Regions from separate parts of the Homo sapiens genome. Here regions 1, 3 and 4 are each linked to region 2. Evidence: fine-mapped expression QTL. A gene starts in region 2. Each other region holds a variant in brackets. All regions are shown on one strand. Distances are from middle to middle.

Evidence for each region. PIP is the estimated chance that this variant, and not a neighbour inherited with it, causes the effect. A credible set is the group of variants that fine-mapping cannot tell apart.
Region 1: its variant is the best candidate, but not a certain one, in a credible set for the expression of AURKC in whole blood (TOPMed, PIP 0.86).
Region 3: its variant is the best candidate, but not a certain one, in a credible set for the expression of AURKC in subcutaneous fat (GTEx, PIP 0.84).
Region 4: its variant is the best candidate, but not a certain one, in a credible set for the expression of AURKC in whole blood (INTERVAL, PIP 0.72).

Annotation. Positions count from the first base shown.
Region 1 is chr19:57,179,098-57,187,204 of GRCh38, forward strand. No RefSeq gene overlaps it. Among named protein-coding and RNA genes, the nearest start is that of ZNF264, 8.3 kb to the right of the region's middle. The variant C/T (reference allele first, on the strand shown) is at 3,856.
Region 2 is chr19:57,227,652-57,235,758 of GRCh38, forward strand. AURKC (aurora kinase C) reads left to right here and starts at 3,372. Exons shown (of 7, transcript NM_001015878.2): 1 at 3,372-3,655; 2 at 4,091-4,136; 3 at 4,382-4,573; 4 at 4,891-5,029; 5 at 5,809-5,957; 6 at 7,233-7,407; 7 at 7,596-7,897. The coding sequence starts at 3,598. The coding sequence ends at 7,766.
Region 3 is chr19:57,168,473-57,176,579 of GRCh38, forward strand. LOC124904780 (a long non-coding RNA gene) reads left to right here and starts at 3,772. Exons shown (of 2, transcript XR_007067355.1): 1 at 3,772-3,824. It also overlaps the pseudogene LOC100132009. RefSeq lists a silencer at 3,359-3,408 and an enhancer at 3,740-3,799. The variant G/A (reference allele first, on the strand shown) is at 3,331.
Region 4 is chr19:57,264,417-57,272,523 of GRCh38, forward strand. It overlaps ZNF460-AS1 (ZNF460 antisense RNA 1), which reads right to left. Exons shown (of 3, transcript NR_136529.1): 3 at 2,777-3,296. Among named protein-coding and RNA genes, the nearest start is that of ZNF460-AS1, 12 kb to the right of the region's middle. RefSeq lists a silencer at 7,547-7,606. The variant G/A (reference allele first, on the strand shown) is at 4,312.

The DNA of each region.
Region 1 (8,107 bases), 49 kb before region 2:
CAATCTGTAGGCCTTATTTAGAGTTAACCGGTTCTCTACATCTCTCGTTTGTGTGTATATGCGTACTTCTATGCAATTTTAATTTTTTCTTTTTCTTTTTTTTTCTTTTTTCTTTTTCTTTTTTTTCTGAGACAGAGTCTCGCTCTGTCCCCCAGGCTGGAGTGCAGTGGTGTGATCTCGGTTCACTGCAAGCTCCGACTTCCGGGTTCAGGCCATTCTCCTGCCTCAGCCTCCCGAGTAGCTGGGACTACAGGCGCCCGCCACCATGCACGGCTAATTTTTTGTATTTTTAGTAGAGACGGGGTTTCACTGTGTTAGCCAGGGTGGTCTCGATCTCCTGACCTCGTGATCCGCCCGCCTCGGCCTCCCAAAGTGCTGGGATTACAGGCGTGAGCCACCGTGCCCGGCTGCAATTTTAATTTTTTTAATGAAGCTGTAAAGGGAGACTTATACAATAGCATAATATCCATTATTAGTAGCAAAGTAACAGTGTAAGAAACAGTACATCAGACTTAGTCAAAGGGCAAACAAAAGCCAAGTTTGGTGATCAGGGAAAACTCTGCATCCCCAAATGCTTATTGAGTAAAATGAAGGCCTACCAGTCAAAACACCACATTAAACCAGATGCTGGAAAAAGGATGGTGATATGGTTTGGCTCTGTGTCCCCACCGAAATCTCACCTTGAATTGTAATAATCCCCATGTGGCAAGGGCAGGGCCAGGAGGAGATAATTGAATCATGGGGATGGTTTCCCCCGTACTGTTCTGACGATGGTGAGTTCTCATGAGATCTGATGGTTTCATAAGGGGCTTCCCCCTTCACTTGGCTCTCACTTTTCTTACCTGCTACCATGTAAGATGTGCCTGTTTTACCTTCCGCCATGATTGTAAGTTTCCCCAGGCTTCCCTTGCCATGCAGAACTGTGAGTCAAACCTCTTTTCTTTATAAATTACCCAGTCTCGAGTAGGTCTTCATAGCAGCATGAAAACAGACTAATATAGATGCCATGCTCCTCTAATACCAATGTTGCTCTGTGCATGTGTCTTTGTCTATGTAAGAAAGAACTGAAACTAGAAAAGTAGAACCATTACATTTAGATATGTCCTGGCTGTAGTTTGGATGGGTTTGGAGGGCTGACACGATAAAAGTAATCTGACAGATGAGAGTAATGGGTTTAGAAAAATAAATGTGTTGGCTGGGCGCGGTGGCTCATGCCTGTAATCCCAGCACTTTGGGAGGCTGAGGCACGTGGATCACGAGGTCAGGAGATCGAGACCATCCTGGCTAACACAGTGAAACCTGGTCTCTACTAAAAATATTAAAAAAAAAAAAAAAATTAGCTGGGCATGGTGGCGGGCGCCTGTAGTCCCAGCTACTCGGGAGGCTGAGGCAGGACAATGGCGTGAACCCAGGAGGCGGAGCTTGCAGTGAGCCGAGATCGCGCCACTGCACTCCAGCCTGGGGGACAGAGTGAGACTCCATCTCAAAAAAAAAAAAAAAAGAAAAAGAAATTTGTTTCTAATGTGCAGGTTTAATTAGAGTGGAAGATGTCAATAAATAAGGTTTTAGCCAGACACGGTGGCTCATGCCTATAATCCCAGAAATCTAGGAGACCAAGACAGGTGGATTGCCTGAGTTTAGGAGTTTGAAACCAGCCTAGGCAACATGGCAGAACCCTGTCTCTACAAAAAATACCCCCCAACAAAAAAATTGGCCAGGTGTGGTGGTAGGCGCCTGTAGTTCCAGCTACCCTGCAGGCTGAGGTGGGAGGATCGCTTGAGCCTGGGAGGCAGAGGCTGCAGTGAGCTATGATTGTGCCACTTCACTCCAGTTTGGGTGACTAAATAAATAAATAAATAAATAAAATACAATAAAATAAAGAAAAGAAAAGAAAAAGAAGGAAGATTTTAAAGATACCATTGAGTAGCCTAGAGCGCTAAACTCTGATCTGCTTCTCCTTACCTAACCCTTTTGGGTTTTTTGTTTGTTTGTTTTTTGTTTTTTTGTTTTTGTTTTTGTTTTGAGATGGAGTCTTGCTCTGTCACCAGGCTGGAGTGCAGTGGCATGATCTGGGCTCACTGCAACCTCTGCCTCCCAGGTTCAAGTGATTCTTCTACCTCAGCCTCCCGAGTAGCTAGGACTACAGGCAGGTGCCACCACACCTGGCTCATTTTTGTATTTTTAGTAGAGACGGGGTTTCACCATGTTAGCCAGGCTGGTCTCGAACTCCCAACCTCAGGTGGTCCGCCCACCTCGGCCTCCCAAAGTGCTGGGATTACAGGTGTGAGCCACCGCACCCGGCCAATCCTTTCTTGTTACTTTCCTTTAATGCAGAGTTTCTCAATCTTGGCATTGAGAATGGGATGGATAATTTTTGGTTGCAGTGGGACATCCTGTGAAGTTTAATAACTTTAACAGCATCACTGGCCTCTTTTTAGTACATACCAGTGAGGCAGGATAGGTAGTCAAGGAGTGACCATATCCTGGGGACGCAGCAACCAGGGTGTCCATACAATCAACACAATAAGCCTCAGCATTCGAGTGGTAGTTCAGCTCATTCAAGCAAAGCTTTCTTCAGCAGGGAATTTCACCTGTAGGAACATGTGCGCTTTGATTTTACCTTTCCTCAGACACCCTTTGCTCATTATAATAGTAAAAAACAGGCCGGGCATGGTGGCTTACGTCTGTAATCCCAGCACTTTGGGAGGCCGAGGTGGGCGGATCACCTGAGGTCGGGAGTTCGAGATCAGCCTGACCAACATGGAGAAACCCCGTCTCTACTAAAAATACAAAATTAGCCGGCGTGGTGGCACATGCCTGTAGTCCCAGCTATTCAGGAGGCTGAGGCAGGAGAATTGCTTGAACCCGGGAGGTGGAGGTTGCAGTGAGCTGAGATCACGCCACTGCACTCCAGCCTGGGCGACAAGAGCAAAACTCCATCTCAAAAAAAAAAGTAAAAAACACACCCATGGGTGGCGATTTAAGATGTTAATGAGACATGTGACGTATGAACAAGTGTGTACAGCTACTGCACATGTGCACCCAGAGGAGCACCCAGAACATGGTTACTAGTAACACCTCTTTCCCACCTCCTCATGAATAATCATGGAAGTCTGCCATAAAGGGAATCCCCCAGCACCAGTCTTTGCTGTCTAATCCTTAGGAGCACCCCAGCCTGAATTCTCTCTCTCAGGGTGTATTGTCTATTTTTCACCTAATTTTCAAGATATTCTTTTTGCTTTACAATAAATTACTCTGTGCTCCATCTCTTGCTGTGTGATTCTTATTTAAGTTCTTTTAAACTAAGAAGACAAGAACTGAGGTATCACAACACCATCAACACCAGTAGCACCTCCCATCCCGAATATATGTTAGTGAAAAATGTCTCTGGATTTTGCTAAATGATCCCTGGACCATGACACTGACCCATTGCTTGCCTGGCTCCATCATGCTCCAGGAGGAGTGCAATTGAGTCTTTGAGGTTGTTAGGGCTTGTAAAGTTTGGAGGCTTTAAGTTGTACCTGCACCAGTTTTGGAGGTGGACACACACATTTGGGGATGCTAGGACTCTGTTCCTCCCCCAACCCCCAGACTTTTAAGGCACCAAGGAATATAAATATCATTTATTATTTTCCAGGCAGGTGCCAAGCCCTTTTTATTTAATATTCCATACAAAATTTGAAAAATTAAAAACAACCTAAAGTGGAGATTTCTACCTCTACTTTTTCAGATGAGAAAATTGAGAAATCAAAAGTTCTGAGACTCATTTTTTAAATTGAGCTCATATGTTTTGAGTGTTTCTTATGTTGCCAGATGTCAATGGAGTTTCTGGGATCTGAGGGGATGTGGGAAAAA[C/T]ATCGTTTCTTTTTTTTTTTTTTTTTTTTTTTGAAACGGAGTCTCGCTCTGTCGCCCAGGCTAGAGTGCAGTGGTGCGATCTTGGCTCACTGCAAGCTCCGCCTGCTGGGTTCACACCATTCTCCTACCTCAGCCTCCCAAGTAGCTGGGACTACAGGCGCCCGCCACCACACCTGGCTACTTTTTAGTATTTTTAGTAGAGACGGGGTTTCACCATGTTAACCAGGATGGTCTCAGTCTCCTGACCTCATGATCCACCTGCCTCAGCCTCCCAAAGTGCTGGGATTACAGGCGTGAGCCACCATGCCCAGCCGAAAAACATCGTTTCTTAGTTGAGTTATAATTAATATTGAGAGCATTAAATTTATGTAGAAAAATCATTTTTCCTTAAATCCTCAAAGATAACAAACAAGCATAAAAATCATTTATAGATTTAGTATTTTTCTGTTAAAATCATTTACTCTTCTTTGTTTTTGGGTCAGTGTTCAATTGGTTTATACCTTTGATAGTTGAAATTTACTTACTGAATACTGATATCATTTGTGGGTCCTGGTAAATATTTCAAAGTTGTCGTACAAACAGGACAATAGATTCTCTCAACTCTTCAAACGTCTAACATGACAGACTTATAAGTCTTTTTTCTTCTTTTTTTTTTTTTTTTTTTTTTTTTTGTAGAGATGGGGTCTCGCTATGTTGCCAAGGATGATCTTGAGCTGCTGGGCTCAAGGGATCCTCTCACCTTGACCTTGGCCTCCCAAAGTGCTGGGATTATAGGCATGAGCCACCACGCCTAGCCTCTTGCAAAGTCTTATAATGTCGTTTTTAAACTCTTAAGCTGCCAAGTGTGGGTGGCTCATGCCTGTAATCCCAACATTTTGGGAGGCTGAGGTGGGAGGATCACCTGAGCCCAGGAGTTCAAGACCAGACTGGGCAACATGGCAAGAACCTGTCTTTACAAAAAATTAAAAAATAAATTAGCTGGGCATGGTGGTACACACCCACAGTCACATCTACTTGGGAGGGTGAGGTAGGAGGATTGCTTCGGCCTAAAATGTTGGCTGGGCATGGTGGCTCACGCCTGTAATCCCAGCACTTTGGGAGGCCAAGGTGGGTGAGTCATGAGATCAGGAGTTCGAGACCAGCCTGGCCAACATGGTGAAACCCCGTGTCTACTAAAAATACAAAAAAATTAGCCAGGCATGGTGGCAGGTGCCTGTAATCCTAGCTACTCGGGAGGGTGGGGCAGGAGAATTGCTTGAACCGGGAGGCAGAGGTTGCAGTGAGCCAAGATCACGCCACTGCACTCCAGCCTGGGCGACAGAGAGAGACTCCATCTCAAAAAAAAAAAAAAAAAAAAAAAAAAAAGTCAAGGCTGCAGAAAACTATGGTCACTCCACTGCAACTACATCCTGGGCAGCAGAGTGACCTTTAATAAAATAAAAACACCCTTGAGCTACTCTCGTAAACCCAGTAAGACTTACACATTTAATAAATCAGATTGTCTTAAGCCTTTTGACATCCTAAATATAAGCTTATGCAAAGCAGCAACACACATGTAAAATATAAAAGTAACAAAGATAACTTCAATACAATTTTTTTTATTTTAAAAATTTTTTAAGAGTTGGGGGCTTGCTCTGTTGCCTGGGCTGGAGTGCAGTGGCAGGTTCATTGCTCACTGCAGCCTGAAATTCCTGGGTTCAAGTGATCTTCCCATCTCAGCTTCCCAAGTTTTGAGGATTACAGGTGTGAGCCACCATGCTCAGCTCTTAACAACTTTTTTTTTTTTTTTTTTGAGACAACGTCTCCCTCTGTCACCCAGGCTGGAATACAGTGGCACCATCACAGCTCACAGCAGCCTCAACCTCCTAAGCTCAAGCGATCCTCCAGCCTCAGCCTCCTGAGTTACTGGGACGACAGTTGTGCACCACCATACCCAGCTACTTTTTAATTTTTTTGTAGAGATGGTGTCTCACTATGTTACCCAGGCTGATCTCAAACTCCTGGCCTCAAGCAATCTTTCTGCCTTGGCTTCCCAGAGAGAGTTTTTCAGTCCATCATTTTTCAGGATTGTGAGCCAGGGTTCCATTAGATCTTATTGAGATATCTCTTGTGTGTCTGCTGTGTGCCAGACATGGTTTAAAAGACTAGAGATACAGGCCAGGGATGGTGGATCACACGTGCAATCCCAGCACTTAGAGAGGCCGAGATGGGCAGATTGCTTGAGCCCAGAAATTTGAGACCAGCCTGGGCAATATGGCAAAAGCCCATCTACAAAAATAAAAATAAAAATTAGCCGAGCATGGTGGCATAGCTGCATGTAGTCCCAGCTACTTGGGAGGCTAAGGTGGTAGGATCGATTGAGCCTGGGAGATCAAGTCTGCAGTGAACTGAGGTCGCACCACTGCACTCCAGCCTGGGTGACAGAGCAAGACCCTGTCTCAATTAAAAAAACAAACAAACAAAAAAAAAACTTAGGATCCAGCAGTGAACAAAATCATCACTGACGCTTACCCTCATGGAGCTAACATTCTGGATGAAAAGTCAGAAATAAACAATAATTATAATACAGAAATAGACATGATAAGTTAACCAGTGCTATAACAAAAAGAAGGAAAAGGAGAGTAAGGTGGATCAGGGTGTCAGAGTTTGGGGAGTTGTTTGCAATTTTCATTAGAATGATCAGGAAACAGCTTATTTAGAATGTGACATAGATCAAAGTCTATAGGGAGATGAGGGGCTGAGCCATGTGGAGATTGGGGTAGGAAGTGGATTTCCTGCCACAGGCTTTCAAGCAAGCATATAATATCCAGGGCTGGGTGCTGTGGCTCACGCCTGTAATCCCAGCACTTTGGGAAGCCAACGTGAGAAGATTGCTTGAGGCCAGGAATTCAAGACCAGCTTGGGCAACATATTAAGACCCCCATCTCTATTTTTTTTAATCTTTTTTTTTTTTCTTTTGAAACGGAGTCTCGCTCTGTCGCCAGGCTGGAGTGCAGTGGCCCGATCCCAGCTTACTTCAATCTCTGCCTCCTGGGTTCAAGCGATTCTCCTGCCTCAGCCTCCTGACTAGCTGGGATTACAGGTGTGTGCCACCACGCCTGGCTAATTTTGTATTTTTAGTAGAGACTTCCCCATGTTTGCCAGGATGGTCTCGAACTTCTCACCTCGAGTGATCCACCCACCTCAGCCTCCCAAAGTACTGGGATTACAGGTGTGAGCCACCACACCTGGCCAAAATAAGCCTTTTTTACTGTATTTATTTGAAGATTAAAGATGGTTTAAGGTGACAAGGGGTAGAGTATGATTGCCAACTATATGTGTAAACTTGTTTAGGCTGTACTACCCAGAAATTGTATTAAACACTGACCAGGGTATTGTTATGAAGGTATTTCATAGAAACGGTTAACATCTATAATCAGTTATTTTGATAATGTAGGTGGTTCTTATCTAATCAGTTGAAAGGCCTTAAGAGAAAAACAGGGTTCCCTGGGGAAGAAATTCTGCCTCAAGACTGCACCTTCAGCTCCTATCCACGTTTCAATTCTGCTGGCCTGAACTCTAGCCTACAGATTTGGGACTGGCCTGTCCCTGCAATCACATAGCCCATTTCTTCTTCTATCTTTTTTTAAAATTTTTATTGTAGGCAAGGTGGGTGGCTCACACCTGTAATCCCAGCACTTTGGGAGGCCAAGGTGGGCGGATTATGAGGTCAGGAGTTCAAGACCAGCCTGGCCAACACAGTGAAACCCCATCTCTACTAAAAGATATAAAAAATTAGCCAGGCACAGTGGCGGGCACCTGTAATCCTACCTACTCAGGAGGCTGAGGCAGGAGAATTGCTTGAACCCAGGAGATGGAGGTTGCAGTGAGCCAAGATTGCAACACTACACACCAGCCCGGGTGACAGTGCCGAGACTCTGTCTCAAAAAAAAAAATTATTGTGGAGGAATGGTCTCACTATGCTGCACAGGCTAGTCTCTTAACTCCCGGCCTCAAGAGCCGGGTCTGTCCTGTAGACCCTGGCTGAGCGATGGATGAAAGGAGTACTCAGACACAGGTATGTAGTGTAAGAGCAGCTAGGGGACTGCTGAAGAGTGAGCAGTCTTGATAAGCTGGGACTGCTTGCTTTTATTCAGTACAGACATAATGCCAAAAGCCTGGAGCCAACACAGTCTGTGGGTAATTAACATTATTGTTCCCCCTTTTGGGGGCAGCCTCACTCGTGAATGATCAAATGTTGGTTCCTAGTTAA
Region 2 (8,107 bases):
TCCCAGCAAAGTTGTGTGCAACACATTCACAGTATTGCCAGCCAGGGAAGCTCCCCCAAGCCTTGACGTCTAGAGTTTTCGTTAAGGGTCATTGAGGTAGGAATGCAGAACCCACATGAATAACCATAAATATCCAGTCTACAACCCTTGCAGAAAACAAACATATAGCATGGCCCAGGGCCTCATGCATGCAAAAGCCAGCATCCACCATGAATCATATTGTTAGCATAAATTATCTGGTCAAACGTGCAGCAGGACCTACTTATGGTTTTCGACATAAAAATCTTACCAGGCAAGATACCCCAAGAGGTTGTTTTCCTGAAGTTGGCCCTAATTCATTCTAGGGTCAGATATCAGATAGCTGCGGACAGTGCCTGTGTCCTAAAACCTGCCAACATTATTCACAGTAGCAAATCCTATTCTGTTTATGCTGCCCCTGCCCTGCCTTGCCTTGCCTTTCTGGTGGAAAACACAGCGCAGGCTCTGGGCCTTGCTTTCTCCTCTGCTGCTGCTTTCTAACCTGCTCTGGTGCTTCCACCCGCATGGTGTGCTCTGCCTCCTGTTTCTAGGGATCTCTTACTATAAACTTCCTCCATAATAATCACTTCTGTATCTGATTGTCACACCCTGCCTGACTAAATACAATCCCAGGTATATTCTAGAATACACAGGGAGCCTATTACAACATCCTTGGGCCAGGCGCAGTGGCTCGCGCCTGTAATCCCAGCACTTTGGGAGGCTGAGGCAGGACTGCTTGAGCCCAGGAGTTCAAGACCAGCCTGGGAAATATAGTGAGACCCCATCTTTAAAAAGAATAAATTTTTAAAAATTGGCTGGATGTGGTGGCATGCACCTGTGGTCCCAGCTACTTGGCAGGCTTAGGTGGAAGAATTGCTTAAGCCTGGGAGTTCGAGGCTGTAGTGGGCCATGATGGTGTCACTGCACTCCAGCCTGGGTGGAAGAGTGAGACTTTGTCTCAAAACTAAAAATAAAAATATGACCTCCTTACTGTGGCCTCCAGGACACTACAGAATTCACGTCCATCTATCTCTGTGATTCAGTTTATCTTCAGCTGCAGCCATACTAACCTTGTTGCACTTCCCCAAACACGACAGGATCCTCCTGCTTTCATTCCCTTGTCTTAGGTGCTCTCTCTATGAGACCCTGTTACCTCAGATGCTCCATTCCTCCAAGTCCATGCTCAGATATAACTGTCTTTTAGACATTTCCCAACTACTCTACCTCCCTCTAACCTTCTATATTGTTTACTTTTGTGGTTGTGGTTGTTCTTTTTGAGTTACTGATTGTTGGAATTAAAAGGTCCCCGAGGGCCAGGGACAGTGGCTCACGCCTGTAATCCCAGCAATTTGGGAGACTGAGGTGGGTAGATCATCTGTGGTCAGGAGTTCGACACCAGCCTGGCCAAAATGGTGAAACCCTGTCTCTACTAAAAATACCAAAATTAGCCGGGCGTGGTGGTGTGCACCTGTAGTCCCAGCTACTTGGGAGTCTGAGGCAGGAGAATTGGTTGAACCTGGGAGGCAGAGGTTGCAGTGAGCCGAGATCGCACCACTGCACTCCAGCCTGGGCGACAGAGTGAAACTGCATCTCAAAAAAAAAAAAAAATTCCTCAAGTACAGGAATGCATAATTATTTTGCTATGTACATATCTGATTTTTTAGAGCAGTGCCTGTTGCAAGATAGGCACTCAATCGATACTCATTAAATTAACAATATACACATATATAAAACAGCACTTTCACATGGTTATGAGTGACCTAAGGAAAAACAGAACAGGATGACGTTGTAGTGGGGGCTGTTTTAAATTGACAGTTTGGAGCTGGGCGCAGTGGCTCACACCTGTGATCCCAGTATTTTGGGAAGCCGAGGCGAGTGGATCACCTGAGGTCAGGAGTTCGAGACCAGCCTGGCCAACATGGTGAAACCCTGTCTCTACTAAAAATACAAAAATTAGCCGGGCATGGTGGCAGGTGCCTGTAATCCCAGCTACTCAGGAGGCTGAGGCAGGAGAAATGTTTGAACCTAGGAGGCGGAGGTTGCATGAGCTGAGTTCGAGCCACTGCACTCCAGCCTGGGTGACAGAGCAAGACTCCGTCTCAATAAACAAACAAACAGACAGGTTTGGGAAAGCCTCTGAGAAAGGAATGGTTGGCCTGAGCTAAGCGCCATTACCCTGATCCACCTATTGTAACCACCTAATGGGTTCATTATTTTCCCTGCTCCCCAGATAGAGTCGACTTATCAAGACAGGATAATTGCAATAAAGGGTTTAATTCACATCAATCGAGCTAAATGAGAGACCAGAGTTTTATTACTCAAATAGGTCTCCCCAAATATTTTGAGACGAGCTTTTTTGTTTTTGGGTTTTTTTGTTTTTGTTTTTGTTTTTTTTGAGACAGAGTCTCGTTCTCCTTCTGTCGCCCAGGCTGGAGTGCAGTGGCATGATCTTGGCTCACTGCAACCTCCGCCTCCAGGGTTCAAGCGATTCTCTTGCCTCAGCCTTTTGAGTAGGTGGGATTACAGGCATGCGCCACCACACCCGGCTAATTTTTGTAGTAGAAACGGGGTTTCGCCCTGTTGGCCAGGCTGGTCTCGAACTGCCTACCTCAGGTGATCCGCCCGCCTCGGCCTCCCAAAGTGCTGGGATTACAGGCATGAGCCATCACGCCAGGCCTTCAATTATATTTCTGCAAGATATGTTCCCTGTCTAAAAGAATTCAATTTTTAATGTTTTTGAAACTTATGTGTTTGCTAAACAAATACGTGGGGGCTGATTTTACGATCTGAGGCCAAATCCACAAACTGATTACAGGGTCCAACAAATATTTGGCGAGTGGGAGGAGAGGGGTAAGTGAGCTGGACTGGTGGCGTCCTGGCTGTGAGCAGGCACAGCCGCAGGCTTCAGGGAGCCCCATCGCGGTGACCCTGGAGAGTGGCCTGAATCGGACGTGACCTTGAAGCAAGGTGGTTTTGGGGTCGCCGGCTGCACAAGGCGCGAAGTGGTTTAGGGTCACGGGCTGCACGAGGCTCCAGCACGTCAGGAGTGGGCGTCTGTTCATTCCCACGTGCATCGCGGCTCTCTCCTAGTTGACGCATGCACACCCCGTGGGTGTATGCGTTGTTCATTCCCACAACGGCCATCACCACCTCTCCGCACCCTCTGTCTCCTTCCTTCTCGGGCCTCACCCCTGGCCCTCGCTTTCAGTGCCCAGCCCGGACCGCAGCACTCCAGTTCCGCCCCAACCCGGGAACCCTGGACTGAGGCTCCCGTTTCTGTCCTTTCTATTGGGCGCACTTCCGATGGCGTCAGGAATTTCAGCCAATAGGAGCCAGCCAGGAAGTACCTCTCTGAGCGGTTGGTGCCGGGTATAAAAGAAGGCCGCGCAGCCACGGCTGCTCACGACGCCGCGGATCCCGAAGCCTGTGTAGCAGTGAGACATCAGTGAGGCTGCAGGACGAGCAGGATTGGAAGCGCCCCGGCCAGAAAGTGACCCCCCACCCCTTTCAGGACCCTGTGAACGGGAACAGCCATCCAGAGGGTTCAGGAAGGCGTCCGCGCCCTCACCTCTTCTCCCCATGAGCTCCCCCAGAGCTGTGGTGCAGCTGGGCAAAGCTCAACCTGCAGGCGAAGAGTGTGAGAGCCAGCGCCAGAGAAAGGACGCAGGGAAGGCTGGGGACTGGGCCAGGGGTCGGGTGCACAGAAGACACATGTGTTGACATCTCCCCTCCCTCTCCTCCTCCCCAACGCTCTTCTTTTCTCCCCACTCCCTCCCTTCCCTCCAATTCTTTCTTTCACCTCTCCCTCCCCTACTCTCTCCTCCCCTTCCTTTCTCTCTGCCTCTTCTTCACCTCCTCCTCCCCTCCCTACCTTACCTTACTCTTTCTTCTTCCCCTTACCTCTCCCTCCCCCTCTCCCTGCCTTCCCCTTCCCTCTCTTTCTCTCCTCCCCTTCTTCCCCTCACCTCTCGCTCCCTATTCCCTTCTCTACTGTTCTCCTCTCCTCTCTTTCTCTCCCCTTCTCCTTCCCTCCCCTCTCCCTTCCTATCTCCCTCCTCCTCCTCTCTTTCAGTGGCTACAGCAAACCAAACAGCCCAGCAGCCCAGCAGCCCAGCCATGTGAGTCCCTTGGGATTGGTATCTGGAAAAGGAAGGAAGGTGGGACGTGGGGATGAAGAACAGACTGGGTGTGTGGGGTGCTGGCTCCTGGGAACGAGAACTACTGATAGGGCTGGGTCTGTGTGAGAAGGGAAAGCGGCAGAGGAAGGATACAATGAAAGAGGAAGGGGAGCATTGGCATCCCTGACTTTCCCTCCGCCTACCCTACCTCCCAAGCTGAGGCTTTTTTCTTCCTCTCCTGTCAGGCGGCGCCTCACAGTCGATGACTTTGAAATCGGGCGTCCCCTGGGCAAGGGGAAATTTGGGAATGTGTACCTGGCTCGGCTCAAGGAAAGCCATTTCATTGTGGCCCTGAAGGTTCTCTTCAAGTCGCAGATAGAGAAGGAAGGACTGGAGCACCAGCTGCGCCGGGAAATTGAGATCCAGGCTCATCTACAGTAAGGACAGTCTCTGCTTCCTCTTTCATCTTTGACGTCTGAGCCCAGCATTTTCCCCAAATACTAACCCCAAGTAAACCCTGCACTTGTACCTTGAAGACTTCTCTGCAGTTCATTCCATTTACACTACCTCCTACCCTGGGTCAGACACTCGAATCCTGGTTCCTGTTCTCCGTTCTCCCCTCACTTGCTCCCAGATAGGGCTGTTGTTATTCTGGTCCCAGCATAATTTGCCACTTGTGTGACCAGGCAGTGACGGTGGCATCATATGATAGGCCTCAGGGAGAAATCTGACTCTTCCAACATTAATCCTTCAGACACCCCAATATCCTGCGCCTGTATAACTATTTCCATGATGCACGCCGGGTGTACCTGATTCTGGAATATGCTCCAAGGGGTGAGCTCTACAAGGAGCTGCAGAAAAGCGAGAAATTAGATGAACAGCGCACAGCCACGGTGAGGTGCGGGTCTGGAGGCTCTGGGGTCTCTGAGTTTACTGTGGGCTGGTGGGAGCTCTGTTTGTGGCTGTCAGGAGGGTCCGCATTGCCTTCTGAGAAGTTTACTTCTGAATGTTATTGTGTAAATTTAATATAATGGCACGTATGTTCTACAGCTTTATCCTTGGATACCCTAATTAACCTCATTGTATCTCCAGAATATTAATAAGTACTGCGTATAGGTTTGGATTCTTTGGTTATAAGCAACAGAATCTAACTCCACTGCCTTATGTAAAGAAACATATTGAAAGGCTCTGAAGGAGTTCACTGAATAAATAGCTAGAACTGGCTTAGAGATAGGTACAAAGAGATTTCTAGAGGGTTCCGGAAAGGGAACCATGGCAATGATTTTCCCAGGAGCAATGGTCCAATCAGCTTGCTGTGTCAGGATGAGTGGTCTTCCATCTTTCCTCCTGTTTCTGTTTCACTTCCTCGGGCCTCAAGTCCTGTGAGAGATCATCTGAGTGGCTCAATGTAGGTTCTATGTCTGGCTACTTGCTGTGCTAGGACAACAGGGAGGATCTGTGTCCATGTTACCATCCATCCTATAAGACCACATAAAAAGGAGAGGAAAACCACACCCCACACACCAGTAACTGGTGCAATTTAAAAGGAGGAAATGGAGTTACTGGACCAAAAAGATTCCACTGTAATCATACAATTCATGGTAAGTGTTCCACCTCAGACGGAAATTGTGGCAGGCTTCACTTCCAGGGTGACTTTTCTTTGCACCCACAGATAATAGAGGAGTTGGCAGATGCCCTGACCTACTGCCATGACAAGAAAGTGATTCACAGAGATATTAAGCCAGAGAACCTGCTGCTGGGGTTCAGGGGTGAGGTGAAGATTGCAGATTTTGGCTGGTCTGTGCACACCCCCTCCCTGAGGTAGGTCAGGTGGTGGTGGTAGGGTGAGTTCTGAGTACCAGTTAGGAATGACCCAGTTTAATGTATTTCATGTGTCCATGTGTAAAACCTAGATACGAACTTGGGGTTTCTATTGGAATACTGCCTTTTTCTTTTCTTTTCTTTTCTTTTTTTTTTTGAGACAGAGTCTAACTCTTTCACCCAGGCTGGAGTGCAGGGGCACAATCTCGGCCTCCCAGGTTAAAGCGGTTCTACTGCCTCAGTCTCCCAAGTAGCTGGGATAACAGGCATGTGCCACCACACTCGGCTAATTTTTGTATTTTTAGTAGAGACAGGGTTTTGCTATGTTGGCCAGGCTAGTCTCGAACTCCTGACCTCAGGTGATCCGCCCACCTTGGCTTCCCAAAGTGCTGGGATTACAGGCGTCAGCCACCATGCCTGGCTGAACTACTGCCTTTTTCTTTTCTTTTTTTTTTTTTTTTTTTTTGAGACAGAGTTTTGCTCTTGTTGCCCAGGCTAGATTGCAATAGTGTGATCTCGGCTCACTGCAACCTCCCCCTCCCAGGTTCAAGCGATTCTCCTGCCTCAGCCTCCCAAGTAGCTGGGATTACAGGCATGGGCCATCACACCCGGCTGATTTTGTATTTTTAGTAAAGACGGGTTTCACCATGTTGGTCAGGCTGGTCTCCAACTCCTGACCTCAGGTAATCTGCCTGCCTCGGCCTCCCAAAGTGCTGGGATCATAGGCATGAGCCACGATGCCTGGCCAATGCTGCCATTTTCAAACACCTATACTTGATATGTATTCGTAGATTTAAATAATGTGGTCCAATCAAACCTTTTATTTTCTGATCTTTGTTAATATATAACTATACCAGTAAGTTTGCATGTAAATAAAGTCATTGCTCCACAATTCCAAAGGAGTGCATTTTTCTGTATGAATGATTTTCATACAGAAATTTTCTTACCATAATTTATTTACTTGGCTCTCATTGATACACCATCAGTTTGTTCTAGATCTTTCTTAATGCTGAGAATATTCTTGTGAAAACATTCTGGAGCATGAGCTAAATCACTGTGTGAATAATTCCAAAATATGGATTTATTAATAGTAGGCCCCAGTACTTTTCTGAACCTTGATCCATATTAAAAATTTGTCTCTCCAAACTCCTGTGCTTGGGAGGGACTTTCCAGGGTGTCCTAGGGTCTCCACATCTCAATGAAAGCTGGGGAAGGAGAATTTCCCTCATCCTGGGCCTCTGCTTAGTACTTATTCCCTTTTCTGCCTTCCTCTAGGAGGAAGACAATGTGTGGGACACTGGACTACTTGCCGCCAGAAATGATTGAGGGGAGAACATATGATGAAAAGGTGGATTTGTGGTGCATTGGAGTGCTCTGCTATGAGCTGCTGGTGGGATATCCACCCTTTGAGAGCGCCTCCCACAGTGAGACTTACAGACGCATCCTCAAGGTGGGACAGTCACCTTTGGGCATTCATGGGGGAGCTGGTCAGTGATGGCTGCTGGGCTGTGGGCACACACACACACAGGGTTGTCTTCTGTGGTCCAGAACAGCGCCTTAACAAGGCTCAAAGAAGAGGGAGGACATTGATCAAAGAAATTAACCAGACTTCTCTTTCTTCTTTCCTGGCCTCATCAGGTAGATGTGAGGTTTCCACTATCAATGCCTCTGGGGGCCCGGGACTTGATTTCCAGGCTTCTCAGATACCAGCCCTTGGAGAGACTGCCCCTGGCCCAGATCCTGAAGCACCCCTGGGTTCAGGCCCACTCCCGAAGGGTGCTGCCTCCCTGTGCTCAGATGGCTTCCTGAGCCCTGTCTGCCTCTGTTCCCTTTGTGTGTGTTCAGGGAGCTCTCCTGGCTCTGCCACCTCATTTGTCTTTATTTTTTTCTCTTTTAAGATGTAAGATGCTAATTAATAAAAGCTGAATCATTTCATACCAGCTCTTCATAGTTGTGTGAGTTATTATGTGACTGGGTAGAATCTTTATTTCTTGTGGGAACTCTTTCCCATGAGAGCTGCCCAAGGTTGTTCTCCCTGCTACCCCCACCTTCCACCTCGGGAGATGGTGACTTCATTCTTCTGAAAACTCTTGCCTACTTTCAGGTCAGGCACGGTGGCTCACGCCTGTAATTCCAGCACTTTGGAAGGC
Region 3 (8,107 bases), 59 kb before region 2:
AGCCATTTTGGAGAAACAATTTCGAACCAGGAAAATGACATGAAATAACATTTAACAGGAAAATTTTACACTTTATTTAATTAAAACAATGATAAATTGTTTTTCTTTTCTGTATATGACATTTCATCACAATATTTTTTCACCAAATTTGTCTGGAAATCTAGAGCAGAATTTTCTGCTGTTTGTTTATATTGATGTTTATATTTTGATGTAAATTATATGTACATCTACTTGAACATTAGTATTACAATTATAAATGTGCTTTAAATTAATTGACACAATATTGGATATTCATTATAATTATATTATCATTAAATATATTATATTAATATATAATATTAATAATATAATCTTGATATACCATATAACAGATATATTACATATTATATTTACTCCAGTTAAATATTATATTTACTTTTTAGCTTTATTGAGGTACAGTTGACAAAAATGATATATATTTAAATATACAATTTGAATTTTGATATACACATATAATTGAATCCCAGATTCAATTACCATAATCAAATCAAGCTGATTGATGTATTTACCACCTCAAACCACACCCTTTGTGTGTGTGTACATATATATTACATTATATTATATTTACTCCAATTATTGTATTTACTTTTTAGCTTTATTGAGGTACAGTTAACAAAAATGATATAAATGATATATATTTTAAATATACAGTTTGAATTTTGAAATACACAAAAGATATAATTACCATAATCAAATCAAGCTGATTGATGTATTTACCACCTCAAACCACACCCTTTGTGTGTGTGTACATATATATTACATTATATTATATTTACTCCAATTAAATATTGTATTTACTTTTTAGCTTTATTGAGGTACAGTTGACAAAAATGATATAAATGATATATATTTTAAATATACAGTTTGAATTTTGAAATACACAAAAGATATAATTACCATAATCAAATCAAGCTGATTGATGTATTTACCACCTCAAACCACACCCTTTGTGTGTGTGTACATATATATTACATTATATTATATTTACTCCAATTAAATATTGTATTTACTTTTTAGCTTTATTGAGGTACAGTTGACAAAAATGATATAAATGATATATATTTTAAATATACAGTTTGAATTTTGAAATACACAAAAGATATAATTACCATAATCAAATCAAGCTGATTGATGTATTTACCACCTCAAACCACTCCCTTTGTGTGTGTGTACATATATATTACATTATATTATATTTACTCCAATTAAATATTGTATTTACTTTTTAGCTTTATTGAGGTACAGTTGACAAAAATGATATAAATGATATATATTTTAAATATAGTTTGAATTTTGAAATACACAAAAGATATAATTACCATAATCAAATCAAGCTGATTGATGTATTTACCACCTCAAACCACACCCTTTGTGTGTGTGCATATATGTTACATTATATTATATTTACTCCAATTAAATATTGTATTTACTTTTTTTTTTTTTTGAGACAGTGTTTCACTCTTGTTGCCCAGGCTGAAGTGCAGTGGGGTGATCTCAGGTCACTGCAGCCTCTGCCTCCCAGATTCAAGTGATTCTCCTGCCTCAGGCTCCTGAGTAGCTGGGATTACAGGCATCTGCCACCACGTCTGGCTAATTTTTTGTATTTTTAGTAGAGATGGGGTTTCACCATATTGGCCAGGCTGGTCTCGAACTACTGACCTCAGGTGATCCACCTGCCTCGGCCTCCCAAAGTGCTAGGATTACAGGTGTGATCCACTGCCCTGGGCCTTGTATTTACTTTTTAGCTTTATTGAGGTACAGTTGACAAAAAAGATACATATTTTAAATATACGATTTGAATTTTGATATACACATATAATATGATATGGTTACCATAATCAAATCAAGCTGATTGATGTATTAACCACCTCAAATTATACCCTTTGTGTGTGTGTGTGTGTGCGGTCAGAACACTTTTTAAAAAAAATATCCTTTTCTCCCCCATGCAGAAGAACACTTAAGGTCTATCCTTGTCGCAAAAAATAAAAATCTATCCTCTTAGCAAATGTCAAGTAGTATTGTTTTTTTCATTTCTGATCATCCAATTTAAAATTTTTTTTTCTAATTTGTTAACTATGTCACATAATGTCACAATGTACATGTCAAATAACGTCACTATGTACCTTAAATCCCCAAAACTTATCTTGCAAAACTGAAAATTTGTACTTCTTGACCAACATTTCCCCATTTCCCCTTCACTCAAGCCCCCGGCAACCACCATTTTACTCTCTGCTTCTATTTTTGATCCAACCTCACTGTTTGTGTCCACGCTCCTTAATTTTCTTGGTCATGAGACCACGAGCTTAGATAACACCTTAGACAATGAGACCAGTGACCCTGACCTGTTTCAGTTTAGTTATTTAAAATATTTTTCTTTCTTTTTTAAATTGTATTTATTTATTTATTTGTTTTGAGAGGGTCTTGCTCTGTCGCCCAGGCTGGAATGCAGTGGTGCAACCATGGCTCACTGCAGCCTCCGACTCCTGGGCTCAAGCGATCTTACCCCCTAGGGCTCCAAAAGTGCTCTGACAGTAAATGCATGAGCTACCATGCCCAGCCATCAAATTTTCAATCATTATAAATCTTAGAGCTGGAAATAATATCTCATTGTTTTATTTTTAATTTGAGCGCTAGCGTGCTTGAACACTTTTAATCAAATGTATTTGCCATATTTTATTTTTCTTTTATTAGCTTTCAGATTCTTTGCTTCTTTCTTAGGTAGAACATTTCTTTGAGACTTAAATATTATGCTGCATTTGTCCTATGTCCTGCAAGTGTTTTCTTAATTCAGTATTTTAAAATAATATTTTGTTTTTATGTTTTTTGTATCTTTATAGCATTCTTCTAAATTGGATCTATGTTTATTTTAATTGTCTAGTCAAAGTACTGACAAGGAGGAGTGAACTTCCTGAAAACGGAGAACAAGATGTGATGCCTTTTAGTAAATGTTTACCAAAAGACACAGGATTCCATTTCCAATTCCATATCGAGAACCTTTAAAATTGTACATAAAAATGCAGGTGAAGTCGTGGAGAAGGGAGGCCAACAGTGCACACAGGTAGTGCCTCTGGGGAAGAATCAGAAGTCATCCTGCATCCTAAATTCCTGACCTGACTTTTCTGCAGGGCGAGTATCTGACCTGTGCTACACCATCAGCAACACAAAGAAAACTTGATGAGCTTTTATTTCCTTTTATTTGTATGTTTCACTCCAGTTTTCAATTCCGTGCCCTCAAAAGCCCGGATATCATCACCGGTACCTCTTTTAAGCTTCACCTCTCTGTGCGGCTCC[G/A]CAAGTATGTTGGTCTCCCTGAGAGAGTGGGGCCTGCAACCTGCTGGGCGCAGGCGCCTTGAGCTGCCACGTCTGCCCTTTTACCGGCTTGGGTGCAGGCAAGGGAAATGCGTCCCCGGGCCGGGGGGCGCGAGCGGGGGTCCGGGGCCGCGAGCTGGGGTCCGGGGAGCGCGAGCGGGGGTCCGGGGGGCGGGGGCCGCGGGCCGCGAGGGGGGCGGGGGCCGCGAGGGGGCGGGGCGTGCGAGGGGGCGGGGGCGTGCGAGGGGGCGGGGGCGCGCGAGGGGGCGGGGCGCGCGAGGGGGCGGGGCGCGCGAGGGGGCGGGGCGCGCGAGGGGGCGGGGCGCGCGAGGGGGCGGGGCGCGCGAGGGGGCGGGGCGCGCGAGGGGGCGGGGCGCGCGAGGGGGCGGGGCGCGCGAGGGGGCGGGGCGCGCCGGGCTCGTCCTCTCCGCGGCGCTCAGTGGCAGCAGGGAGGGCCGGTGAGATGCCAGAGCAAGGTAGGGTCCTGTATTTGGGGACCGCTGACGTTTGGGTCCCCCTCCCGCGGCTGTTAGCGCTGCGTGGCCCGAGACCTGCGGTCGGGCGGGGATTAAGGCTGCTTTCCGGAGGGCCCCGGCCGCGTGGTCGCCCTGCCAGAGCGGTTGATGTCAGGCAGTGCTGGGAGGCGTTGCTCTCCGGGTTCGCTTCTCTCCTGTTGTCCTAACTCTGCATCTCTCCCGGGTGAATCACAGAGCTGTAAACTAAAAATCAAATTCTAAGCTCCCAGCCAACTGAATGGACCCCTCCTCTCAGCTAAGAGCATGGCAAACTTAACCGGAAACACTAGTTCGGCCGCGATAGGAAGGAGATGGGACATGCCTCATTTTACCCTCCTCTCTTTGAAATTCAGGCACAGGTCGGGCGCGGTGGCTCATGCCTGTAATCCCAGCACTTTCGGAGGCCGAGGTGGGTGGATCACATGAGGTCAGGAGTTCGAGACCAGCCTGGCCAACATGGAGAAACCCCGTCTCTACTAAAAATACAAAAATTAGCCAGGCGTGGTGGCGGGCGCCTGTATCCCAACTACTCAGGAGGCTGAGGCAGGAGAATTGCTTTAACCCGGGAGGTGGAGGTTGCAGTGAGCCGAGATCGCGCCACTGCCACTCCAGCCTCAGCACCAGAGCAAGACTACGCCTCAAAAAAAAAAAAAAAAAAAAAAGGAATTCAGGCACAGCTGACCAGTATTAACATTAAAACAATTTTTTTTTAGTATCTTCATGCTAAAGGGGTAAGTAGAAATTGCATGTAGCCTCCCATCAGTTTATTCCAAATAGCAAACATTTACCAAGCCCTGAGTTATTAACTACGTATTTTCTTTTTGTAAACCTTACAATTGAGCAGGCAAGTAATAACATTATCTCCATATTTTTAATGTGAGGAAACTGAGGCCCAGGAAGACGTGTAATTTGCCCAATATCAGGTATTCAGTATATTGGAGATTTGAAGGACAAGTTATTTATTTTGAAAAATGTATACCTTTTCCAAAGTTCCAACAATAATTCAATGAACACATTTATTTTGCCCCAGAATTGCCAATGATGTTATGTCCTATAAGGAGGCACCTAAGTATACAGTTTGTCCATTTGGGAGATTTGGATTTTGACTACTTGGTTAAGATGGTATCTACTAGATCTCTCCACTCTTTCTTCTTTGTAATTAATAAGTAATCTGTGGGTCAATTCTTTGCAATGTCTGAATAATATTAAGTCCCCCCACTTCAGCCTCTAGTTTTAGCCTCTGTTGATGATTCTTCCCTGAATCTGTGATCACTGCTTGTGGGGATTCTATTTCTATTACTTCTTTACATTTTATACTTATAAGTTGACACTCCTGTAAAGAACTTTACCCATCCCATTCTTTTTTCTTTTCTTTTTTTTTGTTTTTGAGAAAGAGTCTCACTCTTGTCATCCGGGCTGGAGTGCAGTTGCGCGATCTAGGCTCACTGCAGCCTCCGCCTCCCGATTTCAAGTGATTCTCCTGTCTCAGCTTCCCAAGTAGCTGAGACTACAGGCGTGTGCTACCACACCCAGCTAATTTTGTTTTTTTTGGGTTTTTTTTTTGTTTTTGTTTTTGTTTTTTTTTAGTAGAGATGGGGTTTCACCATGTTGGCCAGGCTGGTCTCAAACTACTGACCTCAGGTGATCCACCCCCCTCGGCCTCCCAAAGTGTTGAGATTACAGGCGTGAGCCACCGCGCCCGGCCCACCTCAGGTGATCCACCCCTCTCAGCCTCCCAAAGTGTTGAGATTACAGGCGTGAGCCACCACGCCGGGCCCACCTCAGGTGATCCACCCCCCTCGGCCTCCCAAAGTGTTGAGATTACAGGCGTGAGCCACCGCGCCCGGCCCACCTCAGGTGATCCACCCCTCTCAGCCTCCCAAAGTGCTGAGATTACAGGCGTGAGCCACCGCGCCCGGCCCATCCCATCCCATCCATTTTAAGTTAGTTAATTATTTTAGAAGCCACATGGAGTGGATGATTTTTATCTGCGGCATTATAATCCATTTATCTCATTGTATTGGTGCTCACACTACCCAGCATTAGCCTCTCCAAACTCAAGTAGGCTTGACTTTCTTATTTCTATCACAGAGCTCCTGAAACCCTTGGAATTTCCTGTGTGTTGAAATGTCTTTTGTTATTTTTAATGACTTTTTGATCACATCTCAGTTTATACCAATGAGATGGCTTAGGGTGGAGACCCTAGACAGCCTCAAGATGAAGCTGGTCACCAGAAAGATTAGAGAGTTGGAACTTTCAGTCCTACCCACCAACCTCTGTGAAGTGGAAAGGGTGGGATGGCTTGACATGAAGCTCTATAAAAACTCTTGGACAACAAGATTTTAGCTTTCCAGATTGCTGAACACATTCAGTGTTCCTGGAGAGGGCATGGAAGCTCCACACCTCTTCTCACATACCTTGCCCTGTGTATCTTTTCTGACTGTTTGTTTGTATCCTTTGTGATATCTTTTATTATAAAACAGTAAACATAAGCAAAGTGTTTCCCCGAGTTCTATGAGCCATTCTAGAAATGAGTTCTAGGGGGTTGTGGGAACCCCAATTCTAATGTAGTTGGTCAAAAGCACAGGCCACAACCAGGTGATTGTGACTGGCATCTGAAGTGAAGGGCAATTCTGTGGGACTTAGTCCTCAACCTATGGGATGTGACACTTCCTTCAAGTAGATAGTGTCAGATTTGAATTATAGGACACCTACTGGTGTCTCCTGGAAAACTGGGATGGATGAAAAAACCTCCACTCATTTGGTCACACAAATGTTCTGTTTTGAGTGAGTTGAAAGAAAAGAACAGTTAGTTTTTTTGCTTTAGATGTGGTGTCAGAAATGGGATGTTGAATGATTGTGTAAGAGTGGGAGCACTTGGCAGAGAAGTCAAAGATGGCGGCTGTAGCTGCTGTTCGCTGGCTGGGGCTCTGCAGCAGGCTTGACCAGCCACTGACGGGTCAGCCAGCAGGTCTATGTGAACAAGCACACAGCTGAGATTTTATTCTGGAAGTGCAACCCTCTCAAATATTGAAGGAACTGATATAACAGGGATTGAAGAAGTAGTAATTCCAAAAAAGAAAACTTGGGATAAAGTAGCCGTTCTTCAGGCTCTTGCATCCACAGTAAACAGGGTTCCCACGGCTGTACCTTGCGTGTTTCAAGATAATCCTTACCTCATACCAACATCCTCTTCAGAATCTCGTTCATTTTTACTGGCAAAGAAATCCGGGGAGAATACGGCCAAGTTCATTATTAATTCATACTCCAAATATTTTCAGAAAGACATAGCTGAACCTCATACACTGTGTTTAATGCCTGAGTACTTTGAACCTCAGATCAAAGACATAAGTGAAGCCACTCTCAAGGAATGAATCAAGCTCAGAAAAGTCAAAGTCTCTGTGGACATGTTTGATGAGCTTTTGCAAGCAGGAACCACTGTGTCTCTTGTAACAACATATAGTCTCTTGGATTTATTGTGTTACTATGGTGACCAGGAGCCCTCAACTGATTATCAGTTTCAACAAATTGAACAGTCAGAAGAATTGGAAGAGGAAAATAATAAGAGGTCTAGGAGGAAAGCTGGTGATCAATTTGGAGTTACCTGGTGAGCACAAAACAACGCTGAGAGAATGTTTTCTCTAATGCCAGGGAAAAATGCACATTCCTATTGCACAGTGATCCGAGGAATGGTGAAGCATCAAGCTTATGAGCAGGCATTAAACCTGTACACTGAGTTACTAAACAACAGACTCTGTGCTGATGTATACACATTTAATGCAGTGATTGAAGCAACAGTATTGGTGATAAATGAGAAATTTGAGGAAGAATGGAATAATATACTGGAGCTGCTAAGACAAATGGTTGCACAGAAGGTGAAACCAAATCTACAGACTTTTAATACCATTCTGAAATGTCTCCGAAGATTTTATGTACTTGCAAGATTGCCAGCCTTACAGATTCTATGTGAAATGAAAGCCATCAGACTAGAACCCTCGCTTGCAACATATCACCATATTATTCAGCTGTTTTATCAGCCTGGAAACCCTTCAAAGGGATCATCTTTCATCATCTATGATATAATGAATGAATTAATGGGAAAGAGATTTTCCCCCAAAGGACCTGGATGATGATAAGCTTTTTCAGTCAGCCATGAGAGTATCTTCATCTCTCAGAAATCTAGAACTTGCGTACCAAATACATGGCTTTTTTTTTTTTTTTTTTTTTTTTTTTTGAGAGAGAGA
Region 4 (8,107 bases), 37 kb after region 2:
CACTTCTGAAAAAGGCCAAGCACAACTAATTGAGGGCCCCAGATATACAAACATTATTCTGTCATTTCTCCAAGCTGTTTGAAGTTTGAAGTTTGTCTTTCTGTATATTATTTCCCAGTCCTACCTACATCATTTGTTCTTTTTTTTTTTTTTTTCTTTTTTCTTTTTTTGAGATGGAGTTTTGCTCTTGTTGCCCAGGCTGGAGTGCAATGGCGCAATCTCGGCTCACCGCAACCTCTGCCTCCCAGGTTCAAGCAATTCTGTCTCAGCCTCCCGAGTAGCTGAGATCACAGGCATGCACCACCATGCCTGGCTAATTTTGTATTTTTAGGAGAGATGGGGTTTCTCCATATCGAGGCTGGTCTCAAACTCCTGACCTCAAGTGATCTGCCCACCTCAGCCTCCCAAAGTGCTGGGATTACAGGCGTGAGCCACCGCGCCCGGCCCATTTGTTTGCTTGATATTCTCAGGCATCTGCATTAACTCTCTTTTCTTATGATCTACGGCATTGCAGTTGTATAGCCTCTCAACATACCTGTTTGCCCTTCCCAGTGCCATTCCATGTCCCTGCTCTTGGGTAAAATGACACGTGTTTGAAGTGGTCCCTTCTCACTCTGTCTCTTGTTGATCCCTGGAATCACACATAAGCAGTGGTCACTTTCTTTGCAATCTTGAGTTTCCTCCTGACATTTGCCTTCGATGTCATCATGGCCACCTACAAGCCTGTTTTTCATCTGCATGTTCTTTTGTCACTTACACTTTCTAAGTTATCTTTGCATAACTGACTTCTGCTTGAGTGTCAGTCACCACCAGTCTGGTCTTTCCTGTGTGTGTATGGGTTTCTCCAACTTGATTATTTGTCCTTTCCTCCCTCTCCTCCTTTAATAGAGGAGCCTCTTAGGGATGTTTTCCTTTTTTGTGTAATATTTTCACTTCTCCATTACCTCTTTCTTGATTTCTCTCCACTTCCCAAACCTCTACTCTTTGTGGAACTCCTTGCTACAATGCCACCTTCTCCGACATTGTGACTAAGGTCAGAAGTGACTTGGTGCTTATAAATCACAAGTCCTTGTCATTCTTGGGCCATCAGTAGAATTTTATTGTGTCTAATACTCAATTCGTGAAATATGTTCTCTTTCCTTGGCTCTGTAACATCTTTTTCCTCATTCGTTCCCTCCCTCTCTCCCTTCTTTGTGCAGTCATCCATATCTAGCTGCCCACTCAATGTTGAAATACCTAAAGGTTTTGTCCAAGGCTCTTTTGCCTTGTATGGCCTCTCCCCAGCCTCATCTGTGCCCTTGGCTTCAGTTACCTCCCTTACTTTAAAGGCATTGAAAATAGAATACCCCAGTCTTGAGCAATCCTTACAGCTCTGGACCTGAATTACCAGTTATCTTCTTGCTATCTTCACATAGATGTTTCAAAGATACCTCATTCTTCACCTGATGTAAATAAGATCAATAAAATGCTTCTCCCTGACTCTGATCTACTTCAGTCTTCCCTCTTTACTACATGGCACTGTTTAGTTACGTTGGCTAGAAATTTCCAACTCAGCATAGTTACCTCAATCTCTTCCTCCTTCATGTACAATCAGAAAGTTGTGTTTTTTTGTTTGTTTTTTTTTTAACACAGAATCTCGTTCTGTCCCCAGGCTGGAGCAGTGGTGCGAACTCGGCTCACTGCAACCTCCGCCTCCTGGGTTCAAGCAATTCTCCTGCCTCAGCCTCCTGAGTAGCTGGGATTATAGGTGCATGCCACCACACCCAGCTAATTTTTGTATTTTTAGTAGAGACGGGGTTTCACCACGTTGGCCAGAATGGTCTCAATCTCCTGACCTTGTGATCTGCCTGCCTTGGCCTCCCAAAGTGCTGGGATTACAGGTGTGAGCCACTGCCCCGGCCCCATCATTTTTAATTCTTAAATATCTCTCAAGTATGTCCACTTCTCTCTACCACCTCTTCCTAGTCCATCCACTCACCATCTATCATCTCAATTAGTGTCCTTTTACCCACATTTTCTCTTCAATCCATTCTCTAAGCTGAAACCAGAGAACCATCTCAGATTTAATAGTGCTCTGCTTCGCCCTCCCTCTGCCCCCACTACGTTTCCTGAAAACTTTTTATGGCTTCAACTCTTGGGATAAAAACCAAATATGGCCAGGTGTGGTAGTTCACAACTGTAATCTCAGCACTTTGGGAGGCCAAGGTAGGAGGATTGCTTGAGCCCAGGTATTTGAGACCAGCCTGGGCAACAAAGTGAGACCTCATCTCTAAAAACAACTCCCAAATCATTACACGGTCAATCCTTTGGGCTTTATCTGAGCTTTATCTGGTCTGGGAGGTGCCTCATTTACTACCTTTCATCTTGCATAACTTATGCCCTTTCTGTTTTCACTTTGTGTTTCCTTTTCCCACCTGCCATGGGGCTTTTCCACCACACACTTTGTCCAGTAGTGAATATTTATCCTTCATCCCAGCTACGTCATAAGCATTCTTTCATAAATATCTGTGTGTGTGTGTGCATACACATGCATATATATTTAGGTTTGATTACTGACTCCTGACTGTCTCACCAACTAGATTTCCAGCTTCAAAAGAGCACAGATGTTAATATGGATTTTATCCTAATTGTTCCATGCACATAGTTCCTAGTCAGTAGTAGATATTCAGATATCTGCTAAATGGATACGTGGATGAATGGCCTTAATCATCTTGATATTTTAGGTTACTTACCTCAGGCTTCATGATTTGCTAGAAGTACACACAAGACTCAGAAAAGCTGTTATGGTTATAGTTTATTACAATAAAAGGATATAGACCAGGATCACCAAAGGGAAAAATCACATAGAATGAAGTCCACATGAAAGCAGGCACAAAACTCTGGGTGTTATCTCCCATTACGGTCACATAGGGACACACTTAATTCCCCCAGCAAAGATGTGTGACAAGATGTTCACAGTATTATAATACAAGCCAGGGAAGTTCACTCAAGCATTCATTTCTGGGGTTTTTATGGAGGGTCATTTACATAGGAATGCAGGGTCCACATAACTAGTCATAGCCATACAGCCCTTGCAAAAAGCAAACATACAGTGTGGCCCAGGGCCTCGGGCATGCAAAATCCAGCATTCACCATGAGGAATATTGTCAGAAGCATTTGAACCACAGCAAATCCGTCTTGAATAGGGGCTGGGCAAAATGAGGCTGAGACCTGTGCTGCATTCCCAGGAAGTTAGGCATTCTAAGTCACAGGAGGAGACAGGAGTTTGGTGCAAGACACTGCTCACAAAAACCCTGCTGATAAAACAGCTTGTGGTAAAGAAGCTGGCCAAAACCAAGACGGCCAAAACCCACCAAAACCAAGACGGCCAAAACCAAGACGGCCAAAACCCACCAAAACCAAGACGGCCAAAACCAAGACGGCCAAAACCCACCAAAACCAAGACGGCCAAAACCAAGACGGCCAAAACCCACCAAAACCAAGACGGCCAAAACCAAGGTCATCCTCACTGCCCATTATATCCCAATTATGCATTAGCATGCAAAAAGTCACTCTCAGCAGCACCATGACAGTTTACAAATGCCATGGCAATGTCAGGAAGTTACCCTATATGGTCTAAAAAGGAGAGGAACCCTCAGTTCTGAGAACTGCTCACCCCTTTCCTGGGAAACTCGTGAATAATCCAACCCTCCTTTAGCATATAATCAATAAATAACTATAAGTAGCCTTAGTCCAGCAGCCCAAACTACTGCTCTGCCTATGGAGTAGCCATTTTGTATTCCTTTTTTTTTTTTTTTTTTTTGAGACGGAGTCTTGCTCTGTTGCCCAGGCTGGAGTGTAATGGCATGATCTTGGCTCACTGCAACCTCTGCTTCCCGGGTTCAAGCGATTCTCCTGCCTCAGCCTCTCGAGTGGCTGGGATTACAGGCATGTGCCACCACGCCCGGCTAATTTTTGTGTTTTTAGTAGAGATGGGGTTTTGCCATGATGGCCTGGCTGGTCTCAAACTCCTGACCTCAGGTGATCCACCCTCCTCGGCCTCCCAAAGTGCTAGGATTACAGGCGTGAGCCACCGCGCCTGGCCCCTTTACTTTCTTAATAAACTTGCTTTCATTATGGACTCACCCCGAATTCTTTTTTGTGGAAGATCCAAGAACCCTCTTGAGGTCTGGATTGGGACCCCTTTTCAGTAACAATGTTCTTAGAATAAATTATCTCATCAAATCGATACATGAAGGCCTATGGACTCAGGCTTAAAAATTACTTTTACCAGGCAAAATATTCCAGAAACTCAGAGATTGTCTTCCTGGA[G/A]CTGATCAAGGGCCATTTCTTTCTTTAGAATGTATAGCATCTGAGCAACTGAAGCCTGATGAGTTCACACTTTCGTGTATAACCAAAGCCCTGGCCCTAGCCTAGAATCTCTTACAGCAAAACAATCATATTTACTGAGCATCTACATTTAGTATAACATTTATATAAGATATATCAGCAGTATCATCATGAACATGCTGAGCCACTGGAGCAGCTCGTGTGGGGAATGGATAGATTTAGAAACAACAATCCATCCCATAAAGCCATTCATACTTTTCCATATATTTGTATCAATTCAATTACTCATTGTTCTCCTTGATCTACTGTTAATTGTACTTTGTGGTAAACCACCTCCCCTCTCACTACATTGGCTTAAGTTATCCTCCACCTTGCACATCTGGAAAGAGCCAGAGCTCCCTAACAGGACTTCTCCCTCTTGCCCCTCCCATATTCCAATTTCCATAGACTACCCAGAGTGATCCTTTTAAAACATAAATCAGTCCAGGCACAGTGGCTCACGCCTGTAATCCCAGCACTTTGGGAGGCTGAGGCGGGTGGATCACGAGGTCAGGAGATCGAGACCATCCTGGCTAACACGGTGAAACCCTGTCTCTACTAAAAATACAAAAAATTACCCGGGCATGGTGGCACATGCCTCTAATCCCAGCTACTCCAGAGGCTGAGGTGGGAGAATCGCTTGAACTCAGGAGGAGAAGGTTGCAGTGAGCCGAGATCACGCCATCACACTCCAGCCTGGCGACAGGGCAAGACTCCGTCTCAAAAAACAAACAAAAACATAAATCAGATAACATCACAGCTCTGCTCAAAACCCCATGATGGCTACCCATTTCACAGTGTATTAGCTATATTTTCTTATTTTCTGCATTGTTGATGCTATGGAATTTGGGACCTTGCCATTTAGAGTTAACTGATTCTTAGAGATTGCAAATGACTCACTCTGAACCATGCCTTTTATTTGCATACTAACAAATCCAGAGTACCCTAATGTGAATCATCTCCTCTGTCTGGCTCTTACACTACAGGAGACAATTTTTTTTTTTTTTTTTTTTTTTTGCTCTAATGACTCCAGGGCCAGGTACTAGGCAGACAGGGACAGCTCCTAGACCCCAAAGTCTACCAACTTTATTCAAACCAGCAAATCCTCTTCTGGTTACCCAGCCCTGCCTTTCTTTTCCTGTGGAAAACAATAAAGGATCTGGCCTCTGCTTTCTCCTCTGCTTCTGCTTCTTATACCACCCTGGTGCTTCTCACATAGCCCTGCAGGATGTGTTTTGCCTACTGTTTCTAAAACTCCGTGAGTTGAAAGTTCTTCCTTCCTGGCAATCATTTGCATGTCCGAGTTTCTTATCAGACCATACTGCAAAAAACCCCAGGTACATTTTTGAACACACAGGAACATATTACAACCTCTCTACGCTGGCATAAAAGACTACACAATTTGTTTCCATCTATCTCTCCAACTTCCATGCACATTCAGTTCCAGCCGCACTAGGCTTCTTGGTGTTCCACAAACACCCAGGATGCTCTGTCAGTTCCATTGTCCTGTGTGTTTTCTCTGAGTGATAACACTGTTTCCTGAGATCTCCACTTGATGAGTCTTTAATTCCTCCAAGTCCATGCTAAAACATCACTTTTTTTTTTTCTTTTGAGACGAAGTCTTGCTCTGTCGCCCAGGCTGGAGAGCAGTGGCGTGATCTCGGCTCACTGCAACCTCTGCCTCCCGGGTTCAAATGATTCTCCTGCCTCAGCCTCCCTAGTAGCTGGGACTACAGGGGCCCACCACCACGGCCAGCTAATTTTTTGTATTTTTAGTAGAGACGGGGTTTCACCATGTTAGCCAGGATGGTCTCGATCTCCCGACCTCATGATCTGCCTGCCTCAGCCTCCCAAAGTGCTGGGATTACAGGCATGAGCCACCACGCCCGGCCTAACTGTCCTATTAGACCTGTCCCAACCACTCTGTATTGCACAACTGGCTTTATCCCACTCTCACTGATTCTTAATCTGCTCTAGTTTGTCTTATCTCCGCAACACTCCTAACCTTCTATATTGTTTAGGAGTTTTGGATTATTATTATTTTGTGTGTGTGTGTGTGTGTGTGTGTGTGTGGTATGTATGTGTCTCCATTGTGACTTTTTGTTTTTTTGTTTAGAAACAGGGTTTCGCTAGATAGCCCAGGCTGGTCTCAAACTCCTGGTCTCAAGCGATCCTCCTGTTTCAGTGTCCTGAGTAGCTAGGACTACAGGAACAAACCCACCAGGCCCAGCTCTGTATCTCCACTGTTTAGAGCAGAGCCTATCACAAGATAGTCAAGTACTTGTTGAGTTAATTAATTAAAAGTTAGTAAATATATAAAAATATATTTTCAAATGGTTATGAATGTCCTAAAGAAAAATAGAGCAGAGTAATATTGGGGTGAGGGACTACTTTAAAATTTTTATTATTGTTATTATTTTTTAAACAAACAGGTTCTCTCACTCTGTTGCCCGGGCTGGAATGCAGTGGCACAATCATGGCTCACTGCAGCCTAAACCGCCGTGGCTCAAGTGATCCTCCTCCCTCAGCCTCCCGAGTAGCCAGGACTATAGGTACCCACCACCACGCCTGGCTAATTTTTAAATTTTTCACAGAGACGGGGTCTCACTATGTTGCCCAGGCTGGTCTTGAACTCCTGGGCTCAAGTGTTCCTCCTACCTCGGCTTCTCCAAGTGTTGGGATTACAGGACCCCACACCTGGCCGGAGGAGCTACTTTAGATTAAGAGATCCGCACTTGAGCCCAGGAGTTTTGAGAGGAGCTGGGCAACACAGTGAGACCCCATCTCTACAAAAAATAAAAAAAAAATTAGTTGGGTGTGTTGGTGTGGGCTTGTGATCCCAGTTACTCAGGAGGCTGAGGTGAGAGGATCACATGAGCCTGGGAGGTGGAGGCTGCAGTGAGCTATGACCCTGCTACAGTACTGCAGCCTGGGTTACAGAGGAAGACCCCATCTCAAAAGAAAAAAAAAAGAGTAAGAGATCTGGAGAGGCCTCTATGAGAAGGGAATGGTTGATACAAGCTGAGACTCATTACCTGGACCACATGTCTACAATCCAGGTGGCACTGGCTCAACACTGTATCTTTTACATCATCTTGCAAAGTGCCTTCCCTCAGCTTCTCTAAGAAGTATTTGTAGAGTGAATGTTGAGTGGATTTTATAATAATGCTGTGAAATCCCCATGGTCTCCTGGCACCACTGTAGGACTGTTACTGTAGGACTGCGGGGTCACCCCTGGCTGTTAAGGCCATTTCCCTTTCTCTTCTCTCAGCAACCAGCCTATGGCTTCAGGGGAAACTTCCAGTTCAAGACTGAAAGTCATGGTTTTGGCCCTGAGATGTATTTCTGCTCCTGACTCCATGAGAACAAGACAGATTCTACAGGGAATGAAAGGAGAAGCTACAAGGAATGAAAGGAGAAGGAATGAAAGGAATGAAGGGAGAAGGAATGAAAGGAGAAGCTGACTGGAGCAAACACTAGTTATGAAAGGATTCCCTATGAAGTGAGACTTGAGATGAAGAGGAAGCAGCAGATTCCAGATGAATTTTAGGGTTGGAACCCATATATTACCTTCATAACCAGAGAGCCTGGTATTCTTGATTCTTCCACTATAGACCACTGATGTGGTTTGAGAAGAGAGTACAGAATGACACCACTTTCAACAATACCCAGAGGCATAAATTGCTCCAAAGCTTTTTATCAGGCTTGACCGAACACGGTGGCTCACACCTGTAGTCCC